Linked DNA regions of Homo sapiens: regions 1, 2, 4 and 5 are each linked to region 3. Evidence: fine-mapped expression QTL. A gene starts in region 3. Each other region holds a variant in brackets. All regions are shown on one strand. Distances are between the middles of the regions. Region 1 overlaps BCAS4 (breast carcinoma amplified sequence 4). Region 2 holds the start of LOC124904929 (a long non-coding RNA gene). Region 3 holds the start of BCAS4 (breast carcinoma amplified sequence 4). Region 4 has its middle 10 kb from the start of PARD6B. Region 5 overlaps BCAS4 (breast carcinoma amplified sequence 4).

Evidence for each region.
Region 1: its variant is fine-mapped to the expression of BCAS4 in whole blood (TOPMed, PIP above 0.99).
Region 2: its variant is fine-mapped to the expression of BCAS4 in whole blood (TOPMed, PIP above 0.99).
Region 4: its variant is fine-mapped to the expression of BCAS4 in whole blood (INTERVAL, PIP above 0.99).
Region 5: its variant is fine-mapped to the expression of BCAS4 in whole blood (INTERVAL, PIP above 0.99).

What each region holds. Positions count from the first base shown.
Region 1 is chr20:50,815,634-50,820,633 of GRCh38, forward strand. BCAS4 (breast carcinoma amplified sequence 4) reads left to right here. Exons shown (of 5, transcript NM_198799.4): 2 at 2,578-2,649. Among named protein-coding and RNA genes, the nearest start is that of BCAS4, 23 kb to the left of the region's middle. RefSeq lists enhancers at 3,093-3,142, 3,153-3,202, 3,690-3,739, 4,723-5,000. The variant C/T (reference allele first, on the strand shown) is at 2,371.
Region 2 is chr20:50,874,386-50,879,537 of GRCh38, forward strand. It overlaps BCAS4 (breast carcinoma amplified sequence 4), which reads left to right. Exons shown (of 5, transcript NM_198799.4): 5 at 2,101-2,792. The coding sequence ends at 2,223. LOC124904929 (a long non-coding RNA gene) reads right to left here and starts at 1,626. Exons shown (of 2, transcript XR_007067647.1): 1 at 1-1,626. RefSeq lists enhancers at 517-1,228, 1,756-2,336, 4,995-5,152. The variant A/T (reference allele first, on the strand shown) is at 2,332.
Region 3 is chr20:50,791,989-50,797,144 of GRCh38, forward strand. BCAS4 (breast carcinoma amplified sequence 4) reads left to right here and starts at 3,073. Exons shown (of 5, transcript NM_198799.4): 1 at 3,073-3,185. The coding sequence starts at 3,096. RefSeq lists a silencer at 2,806-3,625.
Region 4 is chr20:50,718,995-50,724,165 of GRCh38, forward strand. No RefSeq gene overlaps it. Among named protein-coding and RNA genes, the nearest start is that of PARD6B, 10 kb to the right of the region's middle. The variant C/A (reference allele first, on the strand shown) is at 3,025.
Region 5 is chr20:50,824,315-50,829,314 of GRCh38, forward strand. The region is part of intron 2 of BCAS4 (breast carcinoma amplified sequence 4); the gene reads left to right. Among named protein-coding and RNA genes, the nearest start is that of BCAS4, 32 kb to the left of the region's middle. The variant C/T (reference allele first, on the strand shown) is at 3,111.

The DNA of each region.
Region 1 (5,000 bases), 24 kb after region 3:
CCCAGCTGTGAGATGAAGGTTGCAGAGTTTAAAATTGCAACTTGGTACTATTTATACTCCAGCCTGAAAGATGTTTTTTTGTGCAGTCGTTTATTTTGTTGTGGTGGAGATGGCTCATGCTGGAAGCAGCAGGAACTGGTGCTGTATAAACAGTTCTCTGGGGACAAGTGGGTGGTGAGGGAGCCTTCAGGTGCAGGGGGCAGGGACTAGGCCTGCCCAGAAACTCTGAGCACGCCTCCCTGGAGCAGGACGGTGTGGCCTGGTAGGGAAAGCAGATCATGTGCTTGGCGAACTTTCTTCCTGAATGCTGGCCATTACAAAAATAACAACAGAAACTGGTATTTTAGAAGTCATAAAAGTAGTAGATAACTTGAGGGGGAAAAAAAACCTAATTTTTCTTTTTTGTTTTTGAAGACAGATCTTGCTCTGTCTCCCAGGCTGGAGTACAGTGGCACAATCTTGGCTCACCGCAACCTCCTCCTTCTGGGTTCAAGCAGTCCTCCTGCCTCAGCCTCCTGAGTAGCTGGGACTACAGACGCGTGCCACCACGTCTGGTTAAATTTTGTATTTTTAGTAGAGACGGGGTTTCGCCATGTTGGTCAGGCTGGTCTCGAACTCCTGACCTCAGGTGATCTGCCCACCTTGGCCTCCCAAAGTGTTGGGATTACAGGCGTGAGCCACTACGCCTGGCCAAACCGCTAATTATTTCCCTAATTTTTACACAAGTGCATGAAGCAGTTGTACACTGGCAGGCCCTCTGCACGTTCGTTATTGGCTTAATTTGTGAAGCATTAAAGGGTTTTTTAAATGTGTTCCAATGTTTAAACATTGGGGCATTTCCTATCAAATTAGGATTTCTGGCTTCTCTTGGAAAATGGAAAGATCTGGCAGCTCCGGGCCTGCATTTCCTGATGGCAGCTAGTGGCCAGCAGCTGGAGGACTGGATGAGCACCTCTCAGATCACAAGCCTGATGGCCTGTTTCACTCATTTATGTTAATGTCCAGCCTGATGACTGGGTTTTATTTCTTCTTCTTTTTTTAAAGACAAGTTCTCACTCTGTCGCCCAGCCTGGAGTGCAGTGGTGCGATCACTGCTTACTGCAGCCTCAGCCTCCTGGGTAGCTGGGACTACAGACATGCACCACCATGCCTGGCTAATTTTTTTTTTTTTTTTTTTTTTTTTTTTTTTGAGACGGAATCTCGCTCTGTCGCCCAGGCTGGAGTGCAGTGGTGTGACCTTGGCTCACTGCAGCCTCCGCCTCCCGGGTTCAAGCGATTCTCTTGCCTCAGCCTACTGAGTAGCTGGGACTACAGGTGTGTGCCACCACACCCGGCTAATTTTTGTATTTTTAGTAGAGATGGGGTCACCACATTGTCCAGAATGGTGTCGATCTCCTGACCTCGTGATCTGCCCGCCTCAGCCTCCCAAAGTGCTGGGATTACAGGCGTGAGCCAGTGCACCTGGGCTAATTTTTTTTTTTTTTTAAAGGGATGGAGTCTCACCATGTTGCCCAGACTGGTCTCGAATTCCTGGACTTAAGTGATCTTCCTGCCTCGGCCTCCCAAAATGTTGGGATTACAGGCATAAGCCACTGCTCCCGGCCATGGACCCTTTACATAACATAAAAAATTCAAGTTTCCCTTGTCAGAGTCCCTTTCCCAACTCCTCCTGCCCAGGGCTAAGTAAGCCCTGTTAATAGGGTTTCCAAAGAAACTATGGGATGCCCGGTTGAATTTGAATTTCAGATAAACAACAAATTTTTTAAGTATAAGCACATCTCTTAACTATTAGCAGTCTGGCACATATCATTCCAGGCCTTTCTCTGTGAAGACATGTACTTTTTTTTGAGACGGAGTCTCGCTCTGTTGCCCAGGCTAGAGTGCAGTGGTGCAATCTTGGCTCACTGCAGCCTCCGCCTCCTAGGTTCAAGCGATTCTCCTGCCTCAGCCTCGGAGTAGCTGTGACTACAGGCACACGCCACCATGCCCGGCTAATTTTTGTATTTTGAGTAGAGACGGGGTTCTGCCATGTTGGTCAGGCTGGTCTCAAACTCCTGACCTCAGGTGATCCGCCCGCCTCACACATTTTTTTTGGTATGGTTTGTATCTGACACCGTCTGCAGCTTGCTTTTCCTCTCCGGGGTATCACCGGGGCCACTGTGTTTATTAGAGCAGGCTGTGAGGTTGTGGACTCCATCTGGATTAGGATCCTTGCCCCGCTGTTTGTTAACTGTGTGATCTTGAGCAGGTTACCCCACCTCTCTGAGCCTCCGTGTCCTCATCTGTACAACGTGGAGGATACGGGTAGCTTTGTTATTTCCTGTATTTGTTGATCTTGTCTCTTTTGAAAGCTGCATAGAATGGAGAGGC[C/T]GTGGTGGCTTTAACCAGTCCTCCGTGATGGGCGCCAGGACTGCTGCCTGTTTATTGCTCTTTCAAAGGAGGCAGTGGAAGGGGGTCGAGCAGGAACCGGGCACATAATCCTAAGACTTAGTTTGCTTTAAAAAAAAAAAAAAAATGAAGGGTGTTTGTCTCCCTGGAAACCACTTGCTAATCTCCAGGATATCGTCTCTTTTTCAGGCGAAGGAGGTGGAGGAGACCATCGAGGGCATGCTCCTCAGGCTGGAAGAGTTTTGCAGCCTGGCTGACCTGGTGAGTGGCTGCCTGGAAGGCGTGGGTTTAGGCCCAGGCCAGACTTCAGGCCCTTGCTGGAGTTTTCTGCGGAAGCCATTTTGGTGGTGAGTTAGCAACCAGGAGGAATGGGGCAGCGGCCAGCGCTGAGAGGAAAGCCACGTGCAAACACTCCCTCCTCTCTCTCTCTCTCGCTCTCTCTCTCTCACTCAACCCCAAGTGCTTCCTGAGGCGGCCATCTTGATCTCGTCCTTCCCTCGAGATGGTTTTTATTCCGCAGAGGAGCCAGGAGTGGACCACAAGGTGGCACTCTCGGGCACCGATGCAGGGAGCCGTTCAGCGGGGACGCTAGACTATATTTAACTTTCCTCAGCTCTGCACCGTCCCCTGTGCAAACATGGAGACAGCCAGGAAATGGCTTCAGGCCTGCGAGGCCTAGGAGGAGCCTCTTGCCCAGGCCACAGCCCGTGGTGGAGTTGGGCATCGAGTTCCTTCCTGAATCCTTCTGTTCTCTCTGCTTTTACCTCCTACTCTGTCTGGTTGGCCCAAATCTACTAGCCTGGCTGAGGAGGAAGATGGAAGACAATGGCCCAGAAGACAAAGCCTCCCACGCCAGAGTCTCTAGAAATCGCCTCTAGAGGCTGGGTGCAGTGGCTCACACCTGTAATCCCAGCACTTTGGGAGGCCAAAGCGGGCAGATCACTTGAGGTCAGGAGTTCAAGACCAGCCTGACCAACATGGTGAAACCCTGCCTCTACCAAAAATACAAAAATTAGCCGGGTGTGGTGGCAGGCGCCTGTAATCTTAGCTACTCAGGAGGCTGAGGCAGGAGAATTGCTTGAACCCGGAAGGTGGAGGTTGCAGTGAGCTGAGATTGCGCCACTGCACTCCAGCCTGGGTGATAGATCAAGATTGTGTCTCAAAAAAAAAAGAAAAGAAAAAGAAATTGCTTCTAGATCCCAGTGTTCCTAGGATTGCTGCCAGCCAGGTGTGGAGCCCCCAGGAGTGCTGATAGAATTTTCTAGAAGCTCCCAAGCTTATTAGAGGCAAACCAGTAACCTGGGCTTGAGGTGTCTGCCTGGAGGCCCAAAGGGTAGAGCTCCATATTGTGACCAGGCCCTGTGTCTCCCCAGAGTGGAGGAAGCCTGGCCACCTGGGCCCAGTGGTGTGCGTTTATGTCCCTGAGAAGCACCGTGTCCGGACCCTGAGAGTGTTTGTGAGAACCCAAGGGAGTAACAGTAACAGCAGCCCCAGATGTTCATTGAACGCCTTTCTTTGTGCCCGGCACAAAGCCACCCTAGACAGCAGGCACTGAGTCATCCCTACCTATTCAGCGGACCTCGGCCCAGCCTCTAGGGTCACAGCAGAAATCCCAAGAGGACCTATATGGTTTCTTCTCTTGAGTCAATTTTTACGTTCAGATGTGGGTCCAGGTGGGAGCTAGGTAACAAGACAGGCTTTTAACAGCCTGGATTGTCCTTTCTTTACCACCACGCATTGGACTCTTTCTTTCTCTTTCTGTCTTTGTCTTTCTGTCTTTCCGTCTTTCTGTCTTTCCGTCTTTCCCTCCGTCCCTCCCTTCCTTCCTTCCTTTCTTCCTTCCTTTCGAGATAGAGTCTCGCTCTGTCCCCCAGGCTGGAGTGCCGTGATGCAATCTCGGCTCACTGCAACCTCTGCCTCCCGGGTTCAAGTGATTCTCCTGCCTCAGCCTCCTGAGTAGCTGGGATTACAAGCATGCACCACCATGCCTGGCTAATTTTTGTATTTTTAGTAGAGACAGCATGTTGACCAGGCTGGTCTTGAACTGCTGGCCTTAAGTGATCCTCCCGCCTCGGCCTCCCAAAGTGCTGGGATTGATTATAGGCGTGAGCCACCATGCCCGGCTGCATTGGGCACTTTCTCATGAATGGGCCCCGTCATAAACTTGAGTATGCAAAGAGAGTTCAGTCCATCTCCATTCCCATCAAGCCCCAGTGTATGTGGGGAGACTGATTTGGGTATCAGTTGGTGCCGTCCCATGCTACAGTGCTGTTGTCAAGGTAAGGTCAAGGTGTGAAGGGATTCCAGAGCCAGGGGTGCTAAGTCCTGCCTAGGAAATTGGGAAGGCTTCGTATAACAGGTGGTGATGAATCTGGGGCTGTAAGGAGAAATAGAGAATTCAACAGATGGGGAAGGAGTGCATTCAGGCAGAGGGACCAGCCTGTGCAAAGGCGGGGAGGCCAGGGATGTGGTATGGCTGGGCACTGGGTGAAGGATCGTGGTTGCGGGCAGGGAAGGCAGGTCGGGAGGATGGTGTGGATGGATGCTCCAGGGACACCTTTGTTTTCAAATCCCATCCCGTCATCCACATGGGCATTCTGCGCAAGGAGACC
Region 2 (5,152 bases), 82 kb after region 3:
TGTGAAGGTCCTACACGGCTCAGCACCCGGAAACTCCCCCAACCCTCTAGGATGAGCTGAGGCCCCATCTGGGTTCCCCAGGCCTTTGTGCCTGTCCTGCCATCAGCCCGCATCATAGGGTGGCATTGTTTCTCCTGGTTCATTTGTGTCCCCACTAAGTGCCATGCCCCATGAGGGCTGGGATGGTTGTCTTGTTCACAGCTGTGTCCTCAGTGCACAGGACAGGGCTGGCCTGGTGCACTGTGAGTTGCCGGCTGGTGGACAGATGCTTGGAGGATGTGTGACTTGGGGCAGGGCAACTCCTGAGTCTTGATCTCCCCCTCTGCACTGGGGTCATGGTGTCAAGTGCAGGGGGAGGGGAGGGAAGGGGAGCAGGCAGCATGGGGAGGGGCCTGCAGAGGTGTCTGGCAGTGGGGAAGCTGTCATTGGCCATAGTCTGGAGCCCACATCCCTGTACTGACACGCAGCTTTCAGCTGTAGCCAGAACTGGGTCTCAGCCAGAGTGGGCAGAGGTGGCCAGGAGACGAGACAGTGCAGGGAGCTGGGGGACAGGGTTAGGGGGTGGTGAGAAGGTCCCCTCCCTCTGTCCTCCTTGACCATGCATCCTTGCTCATCTCCACCGGCTCCAACCAGGAGCAGTAGCCCGGGAGCCCTCTCCTTCTTCTGGTGCAGGCCGTGGTCCTTACAACCTGGACTCTGCATGAGAATCACCTGGGAGCTGTGAAATGTCCCACACCCAGGCCACGCCCCCGAGTAGAGACATCTGACCCCCTGGCGTGGGCCCCGGGCATCAGTAGTTCATAAAACTCCCAGGAGATTCCAGCGCATGGCCAGGTTTGACAGCCGTCATTCCAGGTGGTTCTTGGTGACCTGGTTTTTCCTGGAGATGCTCAGCAGCCTGCAGGAGCCCGCCAGCCAGCGCACAGTGAGCGGCTCGATGGGAAATCTCCCCTTCTCCGCCTCCCTCCACAAAAATCCTCACCAGAAACGAGGAAGCACTTCTTAAAATGGTTTTGTTTTTTGAAAGAGTAGCACATGCCTATGGCAGGAACTCCAGGCAGCACAGATGGGTACACAGTGGAAGAAAAATCAGTCCTGGCCGGGCGCGGTGGCTCACGCCTGTCATCCTAGCACTTTGGGAGGCCGAGGCGGGCGAGTCACCGGAGGCCAGGAATTTGAGACTAGCCTGACCAACATGGCAAAACCTCATCTCTACTAAAAAAAAAAAAAAAAAAAAGAAAAAAAATTAGCCGGGCGTGGTGGTGCACGCCTATAATCCCGGTTAACTCAGGAGACTGAGGCAGGAGAATTGCTTGAACCCAGGAGGTGAATGTTGCAGTGAGCCAAGATGGCACCACTGTACTCCAGGCTGGGTGACAGAGCGAGACTCCGTCTCAAAAGAAAAAAAAAAATCAGTCATGCCACCAACCACAGCCACTGTACCCAGGCTCTGAGATGGCCCTGCAGAGCTGTCACGTGTCGGTATAGGTCCCTTTGTCACATGTCTACCCTTCTCACCTTGCTTTCTTAGTCCTCCTCTGCCAGAACATATTGATCTGCCTGGCTTTTTCTTTTTTCTTCCCCGAGACATTGTCTCACTCTGTTTTCTAGGTGGAGTGCAGTGGCACAATCCCAGCTCGCTGCAACCTCCGCCTCCCGGGTTCAAGTGATTCTCCTGCCTCCGCCTCCCAAGTAGCTGGGATTACAGGTGCGCGCTACCATGCCCGGCTAATTTCTGTATTTTTAGTAGAGACAGGCTTTGACTGTGTTGGCCAGGCTGGCCTCAAACTCTTGACCTCAAGTGATCCGCCTGCCTTGGCCTCCCAAAGTGCTGGGATTACAGTCATGAGCCACTGCGCCTGGGCTGCCTGGCTCTTCTTGATGCCTACAGAGTATTCCATTGTGGAGAGGGCCTGACATGGATGCCTTGGTCCCTTTGGGTGGCCGGCTTTGGCTGTCACAGGCAGTGCTGTCAGAGGAGCTCAGAGTCTTTGGTCATATGTGTGAGTCCTGCAGGATGAACTTGTAGACCGGGAATTCCTGGGTCATGGAACAAGTGGATCCAAATCGCTGATAGAGCTTCATTTCTTGTCATTCCAGAAGTCACCTGCACCGGTGCCCGTGACGTACGAGCTGCCCACACTGTATAGGACGGAGGACTATTTTCCTGTGGACGCCGGGGAAGCACAGCACCACCCCCGCACCTGCCCTCGGCCTTTGTGAGCTTTGTGGTCTTCCCATCAGGAACGCTGGAAAGTGACATTGTGTACACACTGCAGCTTGGGGGTTTTTTCTTTGTATTGCTGTTTATTTTATATTTTAAAAATATTT[A/T]AAAAAATGTCGAGATGGGGTCTCACTATGTTGTCCAGACTGATCTCAAACTCCTGGGCTCAAGTGATCCACCCACCTTGGCCTTCCAAAGTGGTGGGATTATGGGCAGGAGCCTCCGTGCCCAGGCTGCTGCCATTTTCAAATTTCCTCCCTGCCTCATGTGAGACCACAGGGTTTGGAGAAGCAGTTGGAACCCACGTGTGGTGATGCCTCCCACATCGGCCTGCTTGGGGTTCTACAGGGGTTGAGGGACCAGGCCTGGCCGGGGCTGATGGACAGTGGGGACTTTCCTTCTCTCCATGATGGCTTTGCAGGGGCTCCATGGTCCTTCTCTCTGTGATGGGTTTTTGCACGGGGTGTGCTCTGCCACTGTGGTGGGTGGGTGGATGCTGCTTCTGTTGCCTCCAGACCTCGGTGCCCACAGCCTTGAGGATCCTTCCAATAAAGGTGTCAAGAGCTCAGCCCTGGTCTGGTGTGAGAATGACGGGGAGTGATAGTTTCCTTTTCACCTGTGCAGTGTTTTCTAGAAGGTTCCTCCTGTGCCTCACCTGCGAGGGCCTGATCCTGGGCACCTGCTGATGAGGCTCCAGCTGAGGGAGGGGTAGTCCCGGCCTTTGGATTTCCAGCAAGAGTGCAGAGGTCATTAGGACCCCCAGGGTCTTCAAAGGCTTGTTTACCCACATTTCTTCCCATGCAGATGAGTTTCCTGCTATTGTCCTAACACTCCGGATTTCTCACTGTGGCTTCAACCTGCAATGGGTATTTCTGGAATTCCTCGAAGAGCCAAGAACACACACATAATTCCCCTATGCACATACAGGACTGAACTGTAAATCTGCATTAGAATTTCAAGATAATCTGCCTGGGCAAGGTGACTCATGCCTGTAATCCCAGCATCTTGGGAGGCTGAGGCAGGAGGGTCGCTTATGCACAGGGTCAAGACTGCAGTGAGCCGTGATTGTTCTACTGCACCCTAGCATGTGCAACAGAGCAAGACCCTGTCCCCCACACCCCAAAAAAGTTTTTCAAGGAAGCCTAAAATAATGAATCTGGCAAGATAGAGTAGAGGCCAGGTGCAGCGGCTCATGTCTGTGATCCCAGCACTTTGGGAGGCCGAGGCAGGCAGATCGCCCAGGAGTTTGAGACCAGCCTGGGCAACATAATGAGACCATATCTCTACCAAAAATACAAAAATTAGCCTGGCGTGCTGGTGCACATCTGTGGTCCCAGCTACTTGGGAGGCTGAGGTGGGAGGATTGCTTGAGCCTGGGAGGTTGAGGCTGCAGTGAGCCATGATTGTGCCACTGCACTCTAGCCTGGGTAACCAAGTGAGATCTTGGCTAAAAATGTTTTTAAAAATTAAAAACAGAAAAGCAGGGAAATAGTTTAGACAATTTTTGGAATTCAGAGATATAGGTAGACCCCTTGTTTCTGGAAAAGTCAGCATTTTTATTCTCTTTTCTTTTTTTTCGAGATGGAGTCTCACTCTGTCACCCAGGCTGTAGTGCGGTGGCATGATCTCAGCTCACTGCAACCTCCGCCTCCCGAGTTCAAGCTATTTTCCTGCCTCAGCCTCCCAGGAAGCTGGGATTACGGGAGCACACCACCACGCCCAGCTAATTTTTGTATTTTTAGTAGAGACGGGGTTTCGCCATGTTGGTCAGGCTGGTCTCGAACTCCTGACCTCAGGTGATCCTCCTACTTTGGCCTCCCAAGGTGCTGGGATTACAGGTGTGAGCCACCATGCCCGGTCAGCATTTTTTTATTGAGGTGACTTTTACAATTTTTTTTTTCTTTAAATGAGACACCTGTCACCCAGCCTGGAGTGCAGTGGTGTGATCATGGCTCCCTGAAACCTCAAGCTCCTGGGCTCAAGTGATCCTCCTGCCTCAGCCTCCCAAGTAGCTGGGACCACAAATGTGCACCACCATGCCTGGCAACTTTTCAAATTTGTTTTATTTTTTGTAGAGACAGGGTCTCCCTATGTTGTTCAGGCTGGTCTTGAACTTCTGGGCTCAGGGGACCCTCCTGTTTCGGCCTCCCAAAATGTAGTGTTGGCACAAACCTTTATTGAAGTATAATTTATATTACAGAAAGGGGTGCCTAAGTGGTTCACTAAATTTTTCACAAACTGAGTGTATCTATTTAAGCCTCACCAGACTGAGCAACCAACATTATCAGCACTGAGCAGCCCCCTCATGCCCGCTTCTGGTCCATGCCCATACCCACCCCCACCCCAGGCTGACAGCATACTGACATCTAACCATATGGACTGGAGTTTCTTGTTTCTGTGCTCTGTATAAAGAGAGGACACACGGGATGTGTACCTACGGTGTGTCATCTCTTGTCTCTGGCCTCACCGGCTTGATGTTACCTTGGGAGGTGTCACTGTTGCTGTGTCACTGTAGATCATTCCCATGGCTGTGTTGTATTGGCTGGGACTGTTTTTATCGAAGGGAGCTTGGACACTCTGCATGCCCCAGTGTGCTCAGGGAGAGCACACGTTGGATGGAAAGTTGGCCGGGTGAGGTGGCTCACGCCTGTAATCCCAGCACTTTGGGAGGCCAAGGTGGGCAGATCACTTGAGGTCAGGAATTCGAGACCAGCCTGGCCAACATAGTGAAACCTCATCTCTACTAAAAATACAAAAATTAGCCAGGTGCTGTGGTGCACCCCTGTAATCCCACCTACTCGGGAGGCTGAGGCAGGAGAATCGCTCGAATCTGGGAGGTGGAGGTTGCAGCAAGCCAAGATCGTGCCACTGCACTCCAGCCTGGGCAACAGAGCGAGACCCTATCTCAAAAAAGAAGAAAAAGGAGAA
Region 3 (5,156 bases):
GTGGCTCATGCCTGTAATCCCAGCACTTTGGGAGGCTGAGGCGGGCAGATCACCTGAGGTCGGGAGTTCGAGACCGGCCTGGCCAACATGGTGAAACCCCGTCTCTACTAAAAATGCAAAAATTAGCCAGGCGTGGTGGTGGGCACCTGTAATTCCAGCTACTTGGGAGGCTGAGGCAGGAGAATCACTTGAACCCTGGAGAAGGAGGTTGCAGTGAGCCGAGATTGCGCCACTGCACACCAGCCCGGGCTACAGAGACTCCGTCTCAAAAAAAAAAAAAATATTAGGCGTAGTGGCATGTGCTTGTAATCCCAGCTACTTAGGAGGCTGAGGCAGGAGGATCACTTGAACCTGGAAGGTAGAGGTTGCAGTGAGCTGAGATCGTGCCACTGCACTCCAGCCTGGGCGACAGAGCGAGACTCTGTCTCAAAAAATATATATATATTAAATCCCTCTTGGGCTGGGTGCAGTGCCTCACTCCTGTAATCCCAGCACTTTGGGAGGCCGAGACTGGTGGGTCACTTGAAACCAGGAATTGGAGACTGGCCTGGCCAACATGTTGAAACCCTGTCTCTACTAAAAATACAAAAATTAGCCAGGCTTGGTGGTGCTTGTTCCTGTAATCCCAGCTACTGGGGAGGCTGAGGTAGGAGAATCGCTTGAACCCGGGAGGCAGAGCTTGCAGTGAGCCGAGATTGTGCCACTGCACTCCAGCCTGGGCAACAAAGCAAGACTCTGTCAAAAAACAAAAAAAAGAAAGAAAGAAAGAAAAGAAAAAGAAATCCCTCCCTCCCATACCCCTCTCCAGTTTCTTCTCCCCCGCCCTAAAGTAACCACTTTTGGAACATGGGGTACGTCGTTCCCATGCACAGCTTTGTACTTTTGCTCCATCTGTCGGTGTCCATAAACAATATACAGTGTGGTTCTGCGTGTTTTAAAAACTGTGCTAATGGCACAGTGCCCTACAGAGCCTTCTGCAACACGACTTTTCTTCCTTAGCTTTATGTTTCTGAGATTTATCCACCAGGAGAAGTTTGCTGTGCTCAGGTCAATTTGGTGATCTGAGGCCAGTCCTGGGCTCTTTGTGGGAGATGCCTAGCCAGCAGGCAAGGGCAAGGGTCTGAGACCGGCTCCCAGGGGATGGCGAGGAGGGCTCAGAGCATCAGGGAAATCATGACAATGACGAATGGCCGAGTGTGGGCTCAGTGAGTTCCTATAAAACCCTTAAGCACTTGAGGCCCAAGTCTTTGCCAAGAATTTTCCAGAAAATGACTGGCCTGAAGGCCTGGATATTTGGATAGGGAGAAATTAGCAGTGGACAGATTTGGAAGTGGGAATTGTGCAGTGATGGACTACACAAAAGGCAGGTCAAACATGTGTTGTTTAGGCCCCTACCTAGGGTGGCCAACTACAATATAAATTCAGATTTAATGGAGAGGAAGGTGTGGGACGTCCTATATATTTATTTGCACCCTTGATACCAGCCCCTCCTTTTTAAAAAACAACAACAACAACAAAAGACAGAGTTTCACTGTGTCACACAGGCTGGAGTGCAGTGGTGCGATCATAACTCGCGGTAGCCTTGAACTCCTGGCCTCAAACAATCCTCCTGCATCTGCCTCTCCAGTAGCTAGGACTACAGTTGTGCCCCACCACATCCTGCAATTTTAATTTTTTTTTTTCTTTTAGAGAGATGGAGTCTCCTTATGTTTGCCCAAGCAGCTCAGCCTTTTTTTTTTTTTTTTTTTGTGAGGCGATTTAACATTTAAAGAAAAGTCAGCAGGCAGGGGGCGCTGGCCCACGCCTGTAATCCTAGCACTTTGGGAGGCCGAGGCAGGTGGCTCACCTGAGGTCAGGAGTTCGAGAGCAGCCTGGCCAACATGGCGAAACCCCGTCTCTACTAAAAAATACAAAAATTAGAATTAGTCGGGCGTGGTGACAGGCGCCTGTAATCCCAGCTACTCGGGAGGCTGAGGGAGGGGGAGAATTGCTTGAACCCGGAATGTGGAAGTTACAGTGAGCCGAAATCGCACCACTGCACTCCAGCCTGGGCGACAGAGCGAGACTCCGTCTCCAAAAAAAAAAAATTAATTAATTAAAAATAAAAATAAGTCATCAAACGAAAAATCAAAACTTCAGACTTGTCTTATACCTATTTGCCTTTTAGTACTTTCCTCATTAGCACTGTTGGGGTGGGAGATGAGGCGCACCTCGCTCTCTTCAGCCCCAAGGCTTGTAAAGGGTCTATCTAGGCCGGCCTCCGAGGGCATGGAGGGAGTGGGTGCGGTTGTGAAATGTAGTGCGCTCAATAGTTTCCTGGTGAAGTTTATTTTAAAATCCGCACCGAAGAGGAAGACGAGGACCGTCACACTCGGCCTTCCCTAAATTCCAGGACCCTCCGCCCGATGCAAACTAGATGCTTTAGTAGGATGGGAACGGGTGGGGGGCGGGCGGCTTTGGGCTTCCTCTAAGCTAGCGCCTCTCTAACCCGGACGCCCGTTAGAATCACCCGGGGAGTTTTAGAAACTACCGATGCCCAAGCCCCACTCCGAAGGATTCCAACTTAATCGGCCTGGTGCGAGGCCTGGCTTCCGGGCTTTTAAAAGCTTCCCGGGGATTCTATTTTACGGCCGGGTCCGGGGCCGGGAGCCTGTACTCTACCGGGATTCCGATGGGGAGGGGTGGCTTGCCCCAATAGTTCTCAAATTTAGCTTTGGGTCAACAATCTGGTTGGAACCACCTAACAAACATCAAAAGATCCTGATGCCCAGGTCTTAACCCAGAGACGGTGTGGTCCAGGCTTGGGAAATTCTAAAAGAGCTCCAGGTGACTGCCATCTGCAAGCGAGTTTGCAAAGCACTGATGCCCAGGTGCTGCGGGGGCGGGCGCAGCGCGCGCCGCTCGCCACTGGGTGGCGCTGCCCGCTCGGCCCGGCGCTCCTGGAGCTGCGAGCCGCGACCGCCGGGAGCGCACCTGCCCCGCCTCCGCCAGGCGGTCCGCGGGGCATGCAGCGGACCGGGGGCGGGGCTCCGAGGCCCGGGCGCAACCACGGGCTCCCAGGCAGCCTCCGCCAGCCGGACCCCGTCGCCCTCCTGATGCTGCTCGTGGACGCTGATCAGCCGGAGCCCATGCGCAGCGGGGCGCGCGAGCTCGCGCTCTTCCTGACCCCCGAGCCTGGGGCCGAGGTAGGGGACGGGGCTGTGGAGTTGGAGGAGAGGGTTCTCGCGGTTAGGGGTCCGGGCTCCGGACCCTCGGCTTCCCCGGAGCATCCTCTCGCTCCCGGAGTGGGGGGCCCGGGGATTCCCCCCTTCCTGAAGGGTGGCTGCGGGGCGCCACGCAGAGATGTGCAGCGGGTCGTCCCTGCTCGCTCCTCCGGGCGACACCGGGCCCCGGAGGCCCAGGCTCGCTTTCCCTCCCCACCCGGGTCCCCCAGCATCCGCCGGGTCCTCAGGCGCCGCCCTTTGCCAGGCCGGCCCTGGGAGAGGCGGACCCCGGGACCTCTGCTGCCCCGGCTACCTCCGAGCGGTGCCCGGGCCGAGCGGCGCCTCAGGCTGCGGCTGTGCGGGCCGCGCTGCGCTGCTGCAGCTCGGAGCGAAAACACCACGCCTCTGTCTGCGCTTTCTATTTTAAAAGCACCAAGTGAAAAGCAGATCTAAAACGAGACCCTCTACCTTCCGGCTGGAGGCATCTGTCGACGCTGTTGTGAAAAAGTTATTTGTCTGAGTTCACTAGGAGTTATTTACGGTCAGAAATTCAACCCATTCTCTTTTTAAACCACAAAAGCAGTACAGGAGTATTTAACATAAAGGCTATGCACCCCTTTCTCTTTTCTCTCCCACCCCAATTCTAGTTTTCTTAGAAAACCAGCATTAACTGTTTGGTATAAATCATTCCGGACATTTAAAATGCATTTACAAATGTAGATATCTGTATCTGCCTAGGCAGAGTATTGGCTCATGCCAGTGGTCCCAGCATTCTGGGAGGCTGAGGCAGGAGGATTGCTTGGGATGGGGATAGGGGACGGGGAAGAGTGAGGCTGCAGTGAGGCTTGATCATGCCACTGCACTCCAGCCTGGGCGACAGAGTGAGACATTTAAAAAAAAATCTATCTCGCCAGGCCTGGTGGCTCACGCTTGTAATCCCAGCACTACTGGGAGGCCGAGACGGGTGGATCACCTGAGGTCAGGAGCTCGAGACCAGCCTGACCAACATGGTGAAACCCCGTCTCTACTAAAAATACAAAAATTAGCCGGGTGTGTAATCCCAGCTACTTGGGAGGCTGAGGCAGGAGGATCGCTTGAACCTGGGAGGCGGAGGCTGCAGTGAGCTGAGATCAGCCATTGCATTCCAGCCTGGGCAACAAGAGCAAAACTCCCTCTCAAAAAAAAAAACCATAAAATATCTTTCCATATATATATATATACATATATATGAGTTTTCTCTTTTTTCTTTTTCTTTTTCTCCATATATATATATATATATATATATATATATATATATTTTTTTTTTTTTTTTTTTTTTTTTTGAGATGGAGTCTTGCTCTGTCACCAGGCTGGAGTGCATTGGCATGATCTCAGCTCACTGCAACCTCCGCCTCCCAGGTTCAAGGAATTCTCCTGCCTCAGCCTCCCGAGTAGCTGGGACTACAGGCGTGTGCCACCATGCTCAGCTAATTTTTGTATTTTTCAGTAGAGACGGGGTTTCACCATGTTGGCCAGGATGATCTCTATCTCTTGACCTCGTGATCCACCCTCCTCGGCCTCCCAAAGTGTTGGGATTACAGGCGTAAGCCACAGCGCCCAGCCATCTCCACATATTTTTAAAATAATTTTTGAACAGACGTTTTTAATTTTTTTTTTTTTGACAGGGTTTCACTTTGTCACCCAGGCTGGAGTGCAGTGACACAATCATAGCTCAATGTAGCCTCAACCTCCTGGGCTCAAGTGATCCTCCCACCTCAGCCTCCCGCATAGCCAGGACCACAGGTGCGCACCACCATGTCAGGTTAACTTTTAAAACAAAGTTATTTTGTGGAGACGAGATCTCACTATGTTGCCCAGGCGGGTCTTGAATTCCTGGGCCCAAGAGATCCTTTGGCCTCAGCCTCCCAAAGTGCTGGGATTATAGGCATGTACCACCATGCCTGGCCCATCTAT
Region 4 (5,171 bases), 73 kb before region 3:
GTTTCTTGGGACTCTCAGGACTATAACTGGGAAAGTCACAAGCAAACTGATATGTGCCCATCACCTTAAGATGAAATGAGAGGCCGGGTGTGGTGGCTCGTGCCTGTAATCCCAGCACTTTGGGAGGCCGAGGTGGGCGGATCACTTGAGGTCAAGAGTTCGAGACCAGCCTGGCCAACATAGTGAAACTCTGTCTCTACCAAAAAATATAAAAATTAGCTAGGCATGGTGGTACGTGCCTGTAATCCCAGCTACTCAGGAGGCTGAGGCACAATAATCACTTTAACCTAGGAGGCGGGAGTTGCAGTGAGCCGACATGGCACTACTGCACTCCAGCCTGGGTGACAGTTAGACTCCATCTCAAAAAAAAAAAAAAAAAGATGAAATGAGAGTGTATATGTACCTTTATTTTATTTATCTGTTTTTAATTTTAAAATAATTTTTTATTTATTAATTAAGATGGGGTCTCACTGTGTTGCCCAGGCTGGTCTCGAACCTCTAGGCTCAAGGAGTCCTCCCACTTTGGCCTCTCAAAGTGTTGGGATTACAAGCATGAGCCACCAAGCCCAGCCTACATGTACCTTTAGAAACAACACCTGCACATTTTTTTTTTTTAGACGGAGTCTCCCACTGTCGCCCGGGCATGATCTTGGCTCACTGCAACCTCCACCTCCCAGGTTCAAATAATTCTCCTGTCTCAGCCTCCCAAGTAGCTGGGATTACAGGCTCCTGCCACCATGCCCGGCTAATTTTTTGTATTTTTGGTACAGACGGGGTTTCACTGTATTGGCCAGGCTGGTCTTGAACTCCTGACCTTGTGATCTGCTTGCTTCAGCCTCCCAAAGTGCTGGGATTACAGGTATGAGCCACCACGACTGGCCAACACCTGCACATTTTAATGCTCCTTCATCTTTTCTGTTTCTATTCGTGGCTGCCTCCAGCCATGGTTGATTCCTTGCCATTTGTAACTATGGTCCTCATTTCCTCAATATCCACTCTGCAGGGGCCCATGATATGCCTTTTATTCCTATCACTACACTGACTTGTTTCCCAAAGTTCCAAATACATGTCCTGGCCAGTCACGGGACAGCCATTAAGAGAATTTATTAAGTGCCAGGCAAAGAGCTTTTCAACAAATCCTTCAGACTTTTCTTCTTCCTCAATTTTCAGGCGACACGTAACTTAAAGGTTAAAATGGGGATGATAATAGTCTCCTCCCCTTGCGTGAATGCCCACAATGGTTTTTGCTTATCTGTCCACTCCTCCTCTGTCTCTTAATAGTTGAAGAGCCTGGTGTGGTGGCTCCTGCCTGTAATCCCAGCACTGTGGGAGGCAGAGGCAGGTGGATCGCTTGAACCCAGGAGCTGAGGCCAGCCTGGGCAACATAGTGAGACTCCATCTCTACAAAAAAATAAATAAAATTAGGTGGACATGGTGGCACATGCCTGGGGTCCCAGCTACTTTGGGGGGCTGAGGTGAGAGGATCGCTTGGGCCTGGGAAGTCAAGGCTGCAGTGAGCTGTGATTGTGCCACTGCACTCCTGTCTGGGCAACAGAGTGAGACTGTCTCTAAAAAAAAAAAAAAAAAAAAAACACCCAAATAGTTGAATAATATGAATTATAGTGACAATTTTTTGAGAGCTTACTATGTATAATACTAGGCACTATATCAAACCCCTTAAAAATATCTCATTGGATCCTTATGAAAAATCCAAGGAATAGGTACCATTATTATCCCCATTTTACAGATGAAGAAACTGAGTCAGGAAGGCCAGCTCACTTCCCCTAGTGGCAGAATCAGGACTTGAACCCAAGTATGACTCCAGAGTCCTTGCTCCAAGCATTTCACTATTCTGTTTCCTCTTCCTTCTCCTGCCTCAACTGTGCTTTCTGGACAAGTTTCTGCCTTGATGACAAGGCTCTGAGCAGGAAGCCTCACCTCTTCAAGACTCAGTCTGCTCTTCTTTTTTTTTTTTTTTTTTTTTTGAGATGGAGTCTTGCTCTGTTGCCCAGGCTGGAGTACAGTGGCACCATCTCGACTCACCACAAGCTCCACCTCCTGGGTTCACACCATTCTCCTGCCTCAGCCTCCCGAGTAGCTGGGTCTGCAGGCGCCCGCCACCACGCCCAGCTAATGTTTTGTATTTTTAGTGGAGACGGGGTTTCACTGTGTTAGCCAGGATGGTCTAGATCTCCTGACCTCGTGATCCGCCTGCCTTGGCCTCCCAAAGTGCTGGGATTGCAGGCGTGAGCCACCGTGCCCGGCCTGCTCTTCTTTTTTTTGAACAATATAAACATGGTGTATTAACACCAAATAGTTGTGAGGATGGAACGCTTGTGAAATGCATAGCACAGTGTTCCCAGCCACTGTGATCAGTATTATAGAAGAATTTTGATTATTACTCCATCAGTATGTTCCTGTTGTAGACTGAATTGTGTTCCCCAAAAAGATAGGTTAAAGTCTTAATCTCCAGTACCTGGGAGTGAGAACTTATTAGGACATAGGGCCTTTGCAGATGTAATAAAACTAAAATGAGGTCAGGCCTGGCATGGTGGCTTACACCTGTAATTCCAGCACTTTGGGAGGCCAAGGTGGGTAGGTCACCTGAGGTCAGGAGTTCGAGACCAGCCTGGCCAACATGGCGAAACCCCATCTCTACTAAAAGCACAAAAATTTAGCTGGGTGTGGTAGCAAGCACCTGCAGTCCCAGCTACTTAGGAGGCTGAGGCAGGAGAATCACTTGAACCCAGGAGGTGGAGGTTGCAGTGAGCCGAGATCATGCCACTGCATTCCAGCCTGGGCGACAGAGCAAGACTTCACCTCAAAAAAAAAAAAAAAATTAAAATTAGGTCATTAGAGTAGTCCTAAATCCAATCGCTGGTGCCCTTATAAAAATAGACACAGAAACAGACAGACAGACAGACACACACACACAGAGAGAACACCACGTGATGCATGTGATGATGGAGGCAGAGCTCAGAGTGATTCGGCTGCCAGTCAAGGAACACTAGTGATTGCTGGCAG[C/A]CACAGAGGCTGGGAGAGAGGCACGGAACAGCCTGTCCCTCAGAGCCTCCAGAAGGAACCAACCTTGCCAATACATAGATTTCAGACTTCTGGCCTCCAGAACTGTGAGACAGCAAAATTGTGTTGTGTTAAGCCACCCAGCGTGTGGTACTTTGTGAACAAATACACTTCCTGGCCAGGCGCAGTGGCTCACGTCTGTAATCCCAGCACTTTGCGGGGCCGAGGCAGGCAGATCACTTGAGGTCAGGAGTTCGAGACTAGCCTGGCCAACATGGTGAAACTCTCTCTACGAAAAATACAAAAATTAGTCAGGCGCGGTGGTGCACGCCTGTAATCCCAGCGACTCAGGAGGCTGAGGCACAAGAATTGCTTGAACCCAGGAGGCAGAGGTTCCAGTGAGCTGAGATCAAGCCACTGCACTCCAGCTTGTGCGACAAAGCAAGACTCTGTCTCAAAAACAAAACAAAACACACACAAAAAACAAATACAGTTCCCTTCCACAGCCTAAGTCCAGACCTTCACATTCTGTGCAAGTTCCTCTTCCAAGGGCCTCTTCAAATGCAGGCCTGCCTGCAGCTCTCTTTCCTCAAATCTGTCTTAACACACCAATTTCTGACTCCCGGGTCAAAAACCTGCGATGACACCTGAATACTTACATCAGTATTTCCTAAAGTTGCTTGAGATAAGGATCACCAGGATGACAGTCCAAATTACAGGTTCCCTGCTAGGTGTGGTGGCTCACGTCTGTAATTCTAACACTTTGGGAGGCCAAGGCAGGTGGATTGCTTGAGCCCACGGGTTTGAGACCAGCCTAGGCAAGAAGGTGAAACCCCATCTGTACAAAAAATACAAAATATTAGCCCGGTGTGGAGGCGCACACCTGTAGTCCTAGCTACTCAGGAGGCTGAGGTAGGAGGCTTGCTTGAACCTGGGAGGGCGAGACTGTAGTGAGTAGTGATTGTGCAACTGCACTCCAGCCTGGGTGACAGAGTGAGACCTTGTCTCAAAAAATAATAATAATTATAGGTTTCCTGGGCCCCGCTCCAGACTACCAGACATGAGATCACAGAAGAGGCGCTTGGAATCTGCATTTTTAATAAGCACCCAAGACAATTCTTTTCCTCAGTCACATTTGGGACACTCTGGCCTACAAGATAAAATCTGGAAGAGACTAAAGATCTTGCCTCGATGATCTCTATAAAATGGCGCCAGCCTCCCCATTCAAATGTCATCTCCCAAGGCTTCCCACTGTCTTTACATCCCTCCATGTGAACAGCCTGCCTCACTGTCCTCACCTTGATCAACCTCTGCTCAAACCTTTGTTCTTGCCATTCTCCTGCCCAGAACACCTCTTCCTTTTCTCCCATCATCTAGGTCTGATTCAGATGCCACAGATCTTAAAATTATTTCTAATTGTTCCAAGATAGCTTCTCAATGACCTCAGAATAAAATTCAATGTCCTTGTCATAGCCTGCAAGAGGCTGCATGATCTGGCCATGGTCGGTCTCTCTCTCTCTCTTTTTTTTTTTTTTTTGAGATGGAGTCTTGCTCTGTCACCCAGGCTGGAGTGCAGTGGCACAATCTCGGCTCACTGCAACCTCCACCTCCCGGGTTCAAGCAATCCTCCCACCTCAGCCTCCCAAGAAGCTGGGATTACAGGTGTGTGCCACCGCGCTCGGCTAATTTTTGTATTTTTAGCAAAGATGGGGTTTCACCATGTTGGCCAGGGTGGTCTCGAACTCCTGACCTCAAGTGATCTGCCCTCCTCGGCCTCTCAAAAGTGCTGGGATTATAGGCGTAAGCCACCATGTCTGGCCTCAGTCTCATTTTAAGCCATTCTTCTCCTTCACTCCAAGCTCCAGGCCTGGTCGGGTACAGTGGCTCATGCCTCTGTCTAAGCAAAGGCATGTACACGTGCATGGATGCACACACACAAGCACACACACAACACACACACACACACACTTGCTCCACTCATTTCACTCACTGTACCCTGTTTGATTAGTTGCCAACATTTAAAAATCAAGAAGTTTCACATAAAAACGTCCAGTCTCTAACTGGATGCAGTGGCTCATACCTGTAATGCCAGCATTTTGGGAGACCGAGGAGGGAGGATCGCTTGAGCTCAGGAGTTCCAGACCAGCCTG
Region 5 (5,000 bases), 32 kb after region 3:
TCAAATGCCTTTGGCTCTCCTTCCTAGGGGCCTGAATCATTCTGGACAGATGACTTTCCTCTGTGGTGACCTCAGAACCTGCTGCCCAGACTTCTGGGTTCTGGAGACCAGGTCTGGAGAGGTGGGAGGATAGTTGGGGGAAGGGTCTGGGGCCTCCAGGCTAGCACACCTGGTTGGGTGTTTGTCCTGGGAGAGGCTCTAGAGCATGGAGGCTTTTTCACTGAAATCTGTTTGCTCTTCTCAGAGCGTAGCCCAAGGCGTGCAAATGTAAACACCTGTAATGTAATGAGAAGTGAGTTGGAGATGAGAAATGTGTCACTTTCCTTTTGAGTCCTCCATAAGAAGAAAGTGCTCCTCTGGGTAGCTATGGATTCCATGTTGGGGAGACTGTAGGGAGTGATGGGGACTGGGGTTAACAAAAGTGGCAGCTGCCACTCAGCTCCAGCTGATTGTTGCCATGTGGAACATGGGCTCAGTGTGGCCAGGTCTTGGCTCAGTGTGTCCAGGTCTCCTGATTTTTCACAAGAAGTCAGAGATCTGGGTTTCTAAGGGAAATATCCTGACTTTGATATCTTGGCATCTGGTTTGGTTTTACTTTTTTTGTTTTTTTTAGGCATGATTGGGCTGACACTGCCTTTGCCCGATGAATGACATCTGTAGACCTCTGGTGTTAGGAAGGGTGGTCTCAGGCCCATCTGGATTAGACTCCTCCCTCTCCCACTTTTTAGCTTTGTGACCTTGGGCCAGCTCATTTAGTTTCTCTGAGCCTCGGTTTTATCTCCCATAAAATAAGGTTGAAGAGGAAATAGTTCTTGCCTCACAGGGCCTGTTCCCAGCACATGGTGAGAGTTCATGGAGTGTGCTCTGTTGGTATCGTGCCCCTCTAGACTGGACCTACATTAACCCTACAGTTCTGTTTTTTCCTTTAATAAATTTTTAATTTTTAAAATAGAGATGGTGCCTCACTGTGTTGCCCAGACTGGTCTTGAACTCCTGGCCTCAAGTGACCCTCTCACCTCGGCCTCTCAAAGAATTGGGATTACAGGTGTGAGCCACCGCACCTGGCCCTAAAGTTTCTTTTATGGTTCCCAGCCCAGGGTGGAACCAAGAGGTAAGGTTTGGGGCCTTTCAGCCCCTAGGATTGCCTTCCCTGGCCCCTCATTCTGAGTAACTACGGTAAACCTCTGGGCAGATATAAACAGTTCCCTGTTGCCTTCAGTTTCAGCCATTGGAGAAGCTGCATCAGAGAAGGGATTTCTCTAAAAATAAAATAAGAAACAGGCTAGGAGCAGTGGCTCATGCCTGTAATTCCAGCACTTTGGGAAGCCAAGGTGGGAGGATCACTTGAGGTCAGGAGTTCAAGACCAGCCTGGCCAACATGGTGAAACCCCATCTCTACTAAAAATACAAAAATTAGCCAGGCATGGTGGCAGGTGCTTGTAATCCCAGCTACTCGGGAGGCTGAGGCAAGAGAATCACTTGAACCTAGGAGGCAGAGGTTGCAGTGAGCAGAGATGGTGCCACTGTACTCCAGCCTGGGAGAGAGAGTGAGACTTGTCTCAAAAAAACAAGAACAAAAACAAAACTAAATAAACAAAAATAAGGGGGAAAAAAAGAGACTTCTTTATTCCCAATTCTTTGGGATTTAGGGGGCGAGGGTGGTCCTTGAGTCTCCTTTCTACCACTTTCTCTGTCTGCTGTAGGTTGCCAATCCCAGCCCATACCCCCAAGCTCATTCTCACTCCCCCGATTTGTTTCTTTAGAAATTAACAGAAGGATACGATTCAAGTTTGTTCCCCGGTGCTCTGACCTTGCCCTGGAATTAATTATCTGCTCTTTGCTACATCAGGGTGATTTTCTCCAAGTTTAGCCTTGTTGAGGAATGAGCTTCTCTCTAGAAATCTGGCCTTGGGGAAGAAAGGGAGGAGACTGAGGACCTTTCCCTGTCACTGGTAACAAATGCTGGAGCCAGGCAGAGCGTGGAGCTGGGGTGAGACAATGGGGAGGGGTGATGACTGTGGAAACCCCAGTGATCAGGCCCATCTGGAGGGAGCAGTCCCAGCCTTTGCTGCCCGGGGAGACTCAGGCCCATCATTGCCAAAGCTGCTGACTTAAGAGAAGCTGTAGATCCAGACCTAATTACTTGAATTTTTAAAACCATATTTATGTATTTTTTATTTTGGAATAGTTTAGATTTACAGGAAAATTGCAAAGATTGTTCAGAGAGTTGCCATATTAACCCTAAAGTTTTTTTAAATACATTTTTAATTTTTTAATAGAGATGGTGCCTCGCTATGTTGCCCAGGCTGGTCTTGAGCTCCTGGCCTCCATTGTTAACATCTCACATCACCATGGTACATTTGTCAGTACTAAGGGGCCAGGCACAATGGCTGACGCCTGTAAACCCAGCACTTTGGATTGAGGCAGGAGGATAGCTTGAGGCCAGGAGTCCAAGACCAGCCTGGACATCACAGTGAAACCCTGTCTCTACAAAAGATAAACAATTAGCTGGGCATGGTGGTGGACAGCTGTAGTCCCAGCTATTCAAGAGGCTGAGGCTGGAGAATTGTTTGAGCCCAGGAGGTCGAGGCTGCAACAAGTCATGATCACACCACTGCACTCCAGCCTGGGTGACAAAGCAAGACCCTATAAAAAAACAAAAAAACAAAAAACAACCCACGACCCCCCACCAAAAACAAACAAACAAACAAACAAAAAAAACGAAGAAACCAGCATTGGTATGTTGCTATTCACTGAACTCCACGCTTTGTTTTGATGTCACCAGTTTCTCATGAGTGTCCTCTTTCTGTTCCAGGATCCAGTCTAAGGTGCCACATGGCACGAGGTTGTCACATCTCCTTAGTCTATTCCGGTCTGTGACAGTTTCAGTCTTACCTTGCTTTTCATCACTTGTGCAGTTTTGAGACATGCTGGTCAGGTGTTTCGTAGAAGGTCCCTCGATTTTTGTGATGTTTTTCATGTGGTTAGACTGGAGATAGGAATTTATGGAACGATCACCACAGAGGAGGAGCCTTCTTATCACATCCCATCAGAGGGTCCCCGATGCCCACATGGCATCACGGATGTGAGCCTGCATAAGGTGGTGCCTG[C/T]GGCTTTCTCCAGTGGAATTTGCCATTTCCCCCTTTCCAGACCCATTCAATCCTCTGCACATATTAGGTTTGTGCACATTTACTTTGTACTTGGAGCTTTGATCTAATACTATGTTAATTTTTTGTTGCTCAGCTTGTCCCAGCTTTGGCCATTTCACTCTTGCAGGTTGGCTTCTGTGTCCCTTGGGTAAGCCCCATCTCATCCTTTATTTTGTGGAACACTTTCTTGCTTTCTGGTGCTACAAGATGCTCCAGACTCAGCTCAGTCCTAGAACCAGCCATTTCTCATGGGAGCCCCACTTGAATTTTTATTTGTTTTAGAGACAGGGTCTTGCACTGTCGCCCGGGCTGGAGTGCAGTGGCGCCATCTTGGCTCACTGCAACCTCTGTTTACCGGGTTTAAGCGATTCTCCTGCCTCAGCCTCCCGAGTAGCTGGGACTACAGGCGCACGCCACCATGCCCAGCTAACTTTTGTATTTTTAGTAGAGACAGGGTTTCTCCATTTTGGCTGTGGCTAGTCTTGAACTCCTCACCTCAGGTGATCTGCCCACCTTGGCCTCCCGAACTGCTGGGATTACAGGTGTAAGCCACTGTGCCCGGCCTTCAAAAATTTTTTTTTTTTTTCAAAATATGAGATGAGGAAACCGAGGCCCAGGGAGGCTAGGGGACCAGCCTGGTGTCATAGTGGAGAACAGTGGAGCAGGGGCTTAGGCTGGGCAGCCTGACACCACATGCCACCCTCTCAGGGCCGATTTTTGACCTTGTGGGATCAGAGCGTGAAAAACGAGTATCCCTGAGGACACTGGACACCTAGAGCTAGGTGCCCAGAGAGATGGCAGTGCTGTGACCAGAGGAGGGCTAGGCGTGGGGAGAGGCATGGAGGAGTTTGGTTTTAGACGTACAGGGCAATGGGGCAAAGGTCTCGGGAAACCGAGGGCAAGGGGGAAATGTTATCCTGAACAGTGGTGGGAGCAGATTTTCACGATAACCACAAGAAGTCTGATGTACTTAGGCAGAAAGAGGAGGAAAAACAGGTATAGTTTTCAAAAAAAAATTTTAAATAAAAATCTGGGGCCAGGAGTGCTGACTCATGCCTGTAATCCCAGATCTTTGGGAGGCCAAGGCAGGTGGATCACTTGAGGTCAGGAGTTCAAGACCAACCTGGCCAACGTGGTGAAACCCCGTCTCTACTAAAATACAAAAACTACGCAGGCATGGTGGTGCGTGCCTGTGGTCCCAGCTACTCGGGAGGCTGAGGCAGGAGAATCGCCTGGACCTGGGAGGCGGAGGTTACAGTGAGCTGAGATTGTGCCACTGCACTCCAGCCTGGGCAACAGAGCCAGATTCAGTCTCAAAAAACAAACAAAAGTGAGTCACTAGGCTCAGCCCAAAATCTTGGGGAGGGGATTACATGAGGGTGAGGATACCAGGAGGGTGAGACCACGGGGGGCACATCAGAAGCCGCCTCCACACTCCACGCCAGCATTGTGCTAAACAGCTCATCCTCAGTATCCCAGCGAAAGAAGGACCATCGTCTTGCACCACTGTCCCAGTGAGCAAAGGAGGGCTCAGAGAGGTGCAGTGAGTTGCCCAAGGTCACAGAGCTCATGGTGGGTAGAGCTAAATTTAAACACTAGCCTGACTCCTTAGTCCAGCTCCTGCTGTGCCCACTGGTGTTTCTCTAACAGTGGTCCCCAGATTCCTATTCCAACGTTGCCTCAGACTGTTGGCTGAAAGTGCGGATTCTCAAACTAGGAGAGGCTGGGAATCAGCATTTGAAAGGCTTCCCCCAGGAGATTCAGTTGCTCCCCAGAATTTTATTTTTTTTCTTTTTTGAGATGGAGTTTCACTCTGTCACCCAGGCTGGAGTGCAATGGCTTGATCTTGGC